Regions from separate parts of the Homo sapiens genome. Here region 1 is linked to region 2. The links come from fine-mapping of genetic effects on gene expression. Tissue or cell type: whole blood. Region 2 holds a variant in brackets; the other region holds the start of a gene. All regions are shown on one strand. Distances are between the middles of the regions.

What was found. PIP is the estimated chance that this variant, and not a neighbour inherited with it, causes the effect.
Region 1: MED14 starts here. The variant in region 2 is fine-mapped to the expression of MED14 in whole blood (TOPMed, PIP above 0.99). The same link has a PIP of 0.9 or more in monocytes.

The regions. Positions count from the first base shown.
Region 1 is chrX:40,733,192-40,737,333 of GRCh38, reverse strand. MED14 (mediator complex subunit 14) reads left to right here and starts at 1,792. Exons shown (of 31, transcript NM_004229.4): 1 at 1,792-2,136. The coding sequence starts at 1,922. MED14OS (MED14 opposite strand) reads right to left here and starts at 1,644. Exons shown (of 2, transcript NR_169211.1): 1 at 1,544-1,644. RefSeq lists enhancers at 580-1,500, 1,501-2,422 and silencers at 1,455-1,544, 1,805-2,184.
Region 2 is chrX:40,649,227-40,653,226 of GRCh38, reverse strand. It overlaps MED14 (mediator complex subunit 14), which reads left to right. Exons shown (of 31, transcript NM_004229.4): 31 at 1,348-4,000. The coding sequence ends at 1,421. Among named protein-coding and RNA genes, the nearest start is that of CXorf38, 3.7 kb to the right of the region's middle. The variant T/C (reference allele first, on the strand shown) is at 1,706.

The DNA.
Region 1 (4,142 bases), 84 kb before region 2:
GTGGTTACCACCAGAGGCCGGGTAGGACAGTGGGTGGAGAAAGGGGAAATATTAGTCAAAGGGTACAAAGTTTCAGTTAGATAGGCGGAATAAGTTCTGGTGATCTATTGCACAGCAATGTGACTACAATTAGCAATAACCTTTTGTATCTTCCAAAGTTGCTAAAAGTGGATTTTAAATGTTCTCACCAAAAGAAGTAAGTATGTATATCATTTGATAGATGTTAATAGCCTGATTTGCTCATTCCACAATGGTTACATGTTTCAAAACATCACATTGTATGCCATAAGTATATACTATCAATTAAAAATAAAAATAATATTTAAAAATAAGGTAGCTGCCTTCCAGCAACTGTATCTGTAAGGGGTATAAATAATCCCAATGCATTTTAATAACTAGCACAATGATATTCTGTTTCAATGTGCTTTAGGACCACCAAGGGAGGGAACAAGTGAGCTTACACCTTCAGAAGCAGATGAACCGCTTTCAACAATGATAAAGAATTACCCAAGTGATGACAGTAAGAATATTCTAACCTTAGGGAACATCATGAACATCTCTTACACCAAGAGGAGATGAAACTGCAAAAAGATGTTTGAAAGGGGTCGCAGCAACGAATGCTTCTAATAGTGAATCTCTACGTTAGGGCATGTTAGAATCACCTTAGGAAAGTTCAAAAATTCCCCAAGCCCAGACCTCAAGCCAGACCAATTAAATCTGAATCTACAGGGGTGGAACCCATATATCTAAGTATTTTTTTAAAAAACAGCTCCTCAGATAATTGCAAAGTGCAGCCAAGGTTGAGAATCGCTGTTTTAAAGCAGGTACAAAAAATTAAACGTGGACTTTGATGGGGGGGACGGGAGTGTCGGTAGGCATGGATGAACTGAAAAGCCCTTCAGAATAGAGCGGTGACTGCAAGAGCAAGGACAAAAACTATATGAGAGCCCGTGGCAGGGGATTTAAGGGCCGTTTTTGTGTGGGACTGACAGGATTTGGGGGATGGTGACGACCTCAGCATACACCCGACTCTATTAAAATTGAGTTACTCTGCCAGCGGCCCTGTCTCTACCCGCAATCATATTTTCTAGCACCTTTTCCCACAGTTTGGAAAAAAAAAAAAAGGGGCGAAAACGTTCTCCCACGTAACGCGCCGTGGACGTGTATGGGAGGAGCAAAGGCCTGAGAATCACAAGCGCGCGGCCGCTCCCATTTCTTCGCGATTCCAGAACCAGAATTCACGAACATTTAGAGGAGGCCTCCCCTGGCTGTGTTTGTGCCCCACTTAGGAAGCGATGGTGGATTTCTCTGGGCAAATTGTCGCCTTTACAACGCCAGGGGGCGGAGGCGGGAGGGAGAGCGGCGAGGGTAAGGGCGGGGCAACTGCTGACGTTCCCGGTGACGACTCCGGCTCAGCCCTCACCCTGGTTTCCGGCGGCGCGCGGCTCCCTTTTCCGCTCTCCCGCGCGCTCACAGGTACCGCCTCACTCCCACGCGCCCCCCAGCGCTGCGGTGCTAGACAGCTGAGAGAACAGACACAGACCTGTCGGAAGGTCCTCTGCAGGTCCCCCTTCCGCTCTGCCGATCGACTTCCGCCTCGGGCAGTCAACATGTACGTTGCGGCTGTCTGGCGAAGCTGCTTCTGAGCGTTTGCGGAGGCGCAGCTTCCCCTCTGCGGGGCCGCCCTGCTTCCCCCCCATCCCCGCCTCCCCCCGCCCCTCGCTCCTGTCCCTGGGGTCGGCGGACTTCTCGCTACATGGGGGCGGGCTTCCGCGGTCGGCGCACGGCTTCCTGTTCTGAGGCGGCCCGGCGGTAGGCGGTGGCGACTCTGCCCGCTCCCGTTTCGGCGCGGTGACCGAGCGCCCGGGAGGCTCGAGGACCGCATCGTGTGCCGTTGCGCCAAGCCCGGTCCTGCGCCGCCATGGCCCCAGTGCAGCTGGAGAACCACCAGCTGGTCCCGCCCGGAGGCGGCGGCGGGGGCAGCGGCGGACCCCCGTCAGCCCCAGCCCCTCCTCCCCCGGGAGCCGCCGTGGCGGCGGCCGCTGCAGCTGCGGCTAGCCCGGGCTACCGGCTGAGCACCCTCATTGAATTTCTGCTGCACCGGGCCTACTCGGAGCTTATGGTGTTGACGGACCTGTAAGTGCCCCGAAACCCCTGCCTGTTCCCCAGCCCCCCTTCCCGCCCAACCGGCTGAGACGTTTGCACCTCCCTCTCCCCGAGAGGCTGCTGTGTTCTCCGCTGGACTGCTTAGTCTAGAATTTTTGAACTCCTGGGGTTCAGCAGAGGTGGAGAAGAAGCTTTGTATCTGGGGTCTTCCTGGCAACGATGCAACAGAGACTTGTTAATTTTGCGTGTTGTTACACTTCCACTGAAAATTGTGTGAAATTTTTGTCCGAGTTCCCAACAGAACTCTCTTGATTTCTTGGCTGGAATACATAATATTCGAGCTTTTAGAAAAAACTCTATAGATGGGAAATTTGTATTACAGCCTCTTGACGATACGTTTTAAATGTAAGCTGTTATTGCTTCTAAGTTAATGCAGGAGCTACATACGTTGTGTATAAAATACAAATTTGAATTCAAAGTACTTTTTTTCTGGAACTTTTGAGTGTTTGAGGTCTTAATGAAGTTAGTGTGAGTAAAATTTTTTTGTAAGTAGTCTGTTATTTCTTGGAGTATGAAGGGGGTTTATAAATCACCTAGTTACCCATGAAATGCCTTGGGGCATGATTAAGTTGTTAATCCCTTCAGAATAGGATCAGAATATACTAACGAATTTCAGTGTGTGAAGAAAAGGCACCGTAACATTTTGGGACTCTGTTGTACATCTTATAACCCAGGTTCAGAAAAAGTTAATCAGAATTTTATTTTTTATCTATTGCAAGACTTCAGATCAGGGTTATCAATTGAGATACATTAGTATGCAGATATTAGGCTCTAAAGCGTCACAGTAATTTGTTTTTAGAGACTGATAACAGATACTTGTTTGCAGATGACTGAAAGAGTAGGCTCTACTTAACTCCTGTAAAACGTCATTCTCAGTTTTGATGTATTGTACTTTTTTGAATGGGACAGAAAAAAGTAGTGTTAAAGAAGCCTACCCATGGCTAATGAGAAATTTAAATCGCTGTCAGGTTTAGGGACTATTATAATGATATACCTCTCTGCACCATTTATTGTTGGATTTCATAAAAATCCAAGAATATCCATGAGAAAGTTTCATGTATGTGCCTATATAGAGCTGTGGGAAAAAAAATGTTGAAAACTGCTGCTATCGGTGGTGTAATTTGCTTTTCCATAGGGGATTTGTAGAAATTCCTTGAATTGTGGTTGTCTTTTTACTATTTTAGGACTTGGCTTATGAAGAGAGGAACATCTGTTTTATTGCCGTAGAATAAGTATGTAGTTATAGTCCCACACCCTTTATGTGATGGTTCCCATATTTGTATCTCCAGCACAGACCTCTCTGATGAACTCCAGACTCTATATCCAGATGCCTACATTTCAGTATCTTGATGGGCATTTCAACATAGCAACTCCAGCACCAAACTCCTGATTCCACTGTCCTCCCTCCTGCAGAACCTTCTTTGCTATCTCACTAGTCTCTCCATTCTTCCTGTTGTTGCTCAGGCCAAATATTTTGGAATAACTCCTGGCTCCTCTCTCTTCACATCCTACATACATCAGCAAGTCCTGTTATCTTTGACTTCAGAGTCTGACCATTTCTCAACACTTCCACCAAGTGCTGGTCCAAGCCACCTAATCCTTCACCTGTGTACTGCAATAGTCAGTTCACTGGTATCTCTGTAGTTCCCTTGCCCCTTCTATAGTTTCTTCTCCACAAAATAGCCAGGATGATTCTTTTAAAATTTCTCTGCTTAGAACCCTTCGATGGTTCCCCATCTCACTGAGATTAAAAAGTGTTGATAATTGCCAGGTGTGGTGGCTTATACCTGTAATCCCAGCACTTTGGGAGGCTGAGGCAGGGGAGGGGGTCACTTGAGCCCAGGAGTTCGAGACTCTGTCTCTACCAAAAATAGAAAATTAGCTGGGTGTGGTGGCCCAAGCCTGTAGTTCCAGCTACTTGGAAGGTGGAGGTGGGAGGATTGCTTGGGCCCAGGAGGTTCGCTTGAGCCCAGGAG
Region 2 (4,000 bases):
AAGTAACAGTCCAGTAGAACCTTGATAATAAACACCATTCCTTCACAAGCAGATGGCTGTCATTATCTTATGTGTTTTTATGTATTATGTCTTGTGGAATTTAAAATTAAAAGGAAAATGTTTTGATCCTATTGGGATCAAGCAAGTTTTCTTGCCTATCAATAATGAAAATGTGTTTTTTAAAAAACAATACTTCTCCTTTTCAGAAATTGTTGAGATATTTTGGAAGTGTTTTCATTTTTTTCCCCCCTTGGACTGGGCAGACCTTTGGATTTCCTTTTTCTTTCTGTACCTTCTCATGTGCACAGGATCACTGCACATCCTGCCCTTTGCTGAAAGGCCATGGTTCACATGAGGTCTTCAGTTCTCCCACTTTCAGCCACTGTATACAGTGTTAGACCATGCTGTAGAGGAAGGGATCCAGCTTTTGGTTTATAATATTTAAATACTTGTAATAATTACAAGAAGCAGAGTATTTGGTTTCTTTGAGCAAAGGAGAAGTTGACAGGATGAATCGCCAGCACCCTCCCCACCCACAAATCCTGTTTTTGGATTGTTGGTGTACCATACTTCAGTCTCCCACCCCACCTCCCACACCCATCACTTCTCTTCTGATGAAGTGCTTTTAAGAAAATCATTTTTGTATTTAATTGATTTTAATGTTGAACTCTGGAAGTTGACCATTTCCTTGAATTTTGGGAGAAAACTCCAATAGATGTCAGAGACATGCACTGTCCAGTATAACTGCCACTAGCCAGCATGTGGCTATTTAAATTTAAGTTAATGAAAATTAAATAAAACTTTAAATTCAGTTCCTCAGTCACACTAGCTATATTACAAGTGCTTAATAGCCATGGCACACTTATACAACATTTCCATCATCACAAAAAGTTCTATTGGACAGCGCTGTCCTAAACATTTTTATCTGGCCTTTAATGCAACGTTTGAAAGATACCACCAAAGTTGTAACTAATGCATAAATATAAACTAGATGTTTTTATGATATCCAAAATGCCCTTATAAGCACTCAGTAGCCTTAAAGCCCAACTTCAAAGGCTTATCTAATGCTACAGTGTTTCTAAACAGAAACTCTAGACATATCTTCCTAAATACAAACCTAACTGGGACTTGCTTGAAGTTTCCTCCTGAGAAAAAAAATCCAAACCAAATATAATCTGATACTTAACACCACAGCTTAATCCCCAATAATCTGGGCAGTTAAAATTGTCTTTTATTTTGATCTTTAAAGTTCTCACTAATTTTAGATTTAATTACCCCTTCCCTTACCGGTGTGTTAACATCTTTCCTGTGTTGTGAATAGCTAATGACCATTTTTCTCTGTTGCAGGTGAATGCACAATATTTGCAGCTGTTCGTGATTTAATGGCTAATCTTACACTGCCCCCTGGTGGGCGTCCATAGACACTATTGTTTTTAAACCAGGAAGGCTGACAGATGAGACAACAAAAAAAATCTGAATTCAGCCTTCAGTTTAAAAAAGGAAAAGGACTTTTTTTTTAAACTTTAAGAGCTAAATATTCTAAACTGGCAAAAATTTTCAGGGTGCACTTCTTTCATCAAAATGATCATCCATCTTTTGTATAATGAACTTGTATAGTGTGTTTAAATGGGACACATTTCAAAGGAAATAAATCAGTGTCCGTTTGCCAGTAATAAATTTAATATTCTGTTTTATACTATAAAGT[T/C]ATGAAAATGCCAAACTTGTTTATTTAATTGTTTTCTTATGTTTTGGGTGTAATAGTCCTTTTTTGGTTTTTGTTTTGTTTTTTAAGGCAGGTCTGTCATTTTTGAATACTGTAAAACTGTGATAAACTTTATATTGAAGCTGTATTTTAATATGACCGCTTTGAATCCTTACATGAAATGTTCTGGGAGTTGTTATAAACACACCCCAAGGAAGCAATATTTAATAAAACTAGGTCAAAAACAAAACAAAACAGTGACACTCACTTGTGTGTATATAAACTCTAGAGACATCTTAGGCCCTCCCTTCATCTTTAACCTGGTGGATGGAGCCAGTTATTAATTTATAATAATACATGTCTGAAATTTGACCAAAAACATCTTCTTTATGTCAAGGTTAATATATTTTCTTCAGACATTCCTAACTTGACTAGTGGTTAACATTTAGCACCTTGGTTGTCTTTCAATATATAGGATTTGGGTGAAAAATAAGGAACTTAGTCTTTGAGAAGGGACAGTATGTGGTTCGTATTGATCAAGGATCCCAAATAATGCAATCATTCTCATCTGTTGAGGATGTGGGAACTTTTCTGTCAGGAAAATTTAGTTTACAGAATACTTCTGCATACAACATTAATTAGGAAACAAAGAACTTTAATGCTGTACCTCTGCATGAAGTTTCTGTGAGCTTTCTTTATCTTGCTTAACTTATCCTCCTTTCCTTCCCCACCAAAATTGGGATTGTTCTAAACAATTTCAATTTAATTCATTGTCAACAAAACGATAGAATGTTTTGCTTGGAAGAAACCTGGTCCATTCCCCTCATTGTGAAGAATCCCGAATCCTGGGCCTGTCCAGGGTCAAATGGAGTTTTTGGTATTAATACATCTCTGCAGGGTTTCTTTTTGGAGCACTGTGCTGTCTTTCCTAGTCAGTCAGGGACTTTTTTAAGCTTCAAAGAACATGGTCTGATGCAAAGGTCTTCTACCGACTTCATGGTATTTAGGAAAAATTTTTAAGTGATAATACCATGCCGAGTTACCTGGTCACTGTAATACTGGTTCTCCATTAAAATGTAGATGCTTTGTCTAATTCCACTTCAAGATGATTTAATTGAGCTTCTATAACTATCAACTATCAAATTCTAGTTTCAAGTATCTCACTGTACCTATATCATATCTGTTCTCAACTTTGTTTGATTCTCCACTCATTTTCAATCAGAGTTGAAGCCTTCTTTGCCTTTCTTCTTTGTCTTATTTCTGCCTTCATCTCCCACTTCTCACCCAACTCTGCCACTGTTCAGGAGCAGTTGACTAAACTTTTATCCTTCCTTTAACTTAATCTTTTTATCCTTCTGTTTTTAGTTCTTACAGTGGTAATCACATCAGTTTGGCAATCTAAGATGTCTTTATCAAGGGTCAGCCCTTTTCTATTTGGAGCTGAATCTTTTCTTTCATGTAGAAATCTACATGTATATACAAGAAATGTATTTTTATCTGCAGGATAATATTGTTTCAAATAATTTTATTAAGAGTTAACTTTTTAGGTATTTTCCCTTTTAATGTGGTTTTGAAATGTTAATTGCATTTTTACACATGATGCATTCAGTGGACACTCTTTTTTCCTAATTATAACTCATCTCTGAATGCATTGTGCCAATCAAGAGTAAGATAGGATTCAGTGCGCAAAATTTGCTTTTGATGCTTATTAAGAGTAAACCCATGAATTTGAATTTTTATATTATGCTTGGTACTTGGAATTGATATATACCTTATTAAAGCTTGAAAACATTTAGCATTTGAATAGTAAGTTTCATCACAAATCATGTCTTTTGCCTCTTTTGTTACCCAGGTTCGATCAAGGGGACTGGATGCCCAAGTGATTTTCTCTAATAATCGGGTTGGGACTTAACTTTAAGGTGTTTTCAATGTGATTTTAGTATTTACAGTAATAAATAAAATTTATACAAAGTTTCAGAGAACTACCAACTCTCTAGTTAATTTTGATGAAGATGTTTTCATTAATAGTCTGGTTTAGTATTAATTTAACCTTGAAATAAGAAATTGGTCCTGATTTGCCACCTTCATTTTTCCATCTGCTGAAATGCCATTTCAGAATGTATAAAAGTACTTTCAGAATTAGAAGAAAAGTGAGAGCTTCAGCAGAACGTGTCAAGTCGCTAATAACAGGAGTCGAACCTTATGTTTGAAAATTAACTGAGTGAGTTAAGTGCAAGCATAAACTAAAATTTATATGACTTTGAATTTAAGAACCACTAATAACTGTGTTCTAATTAA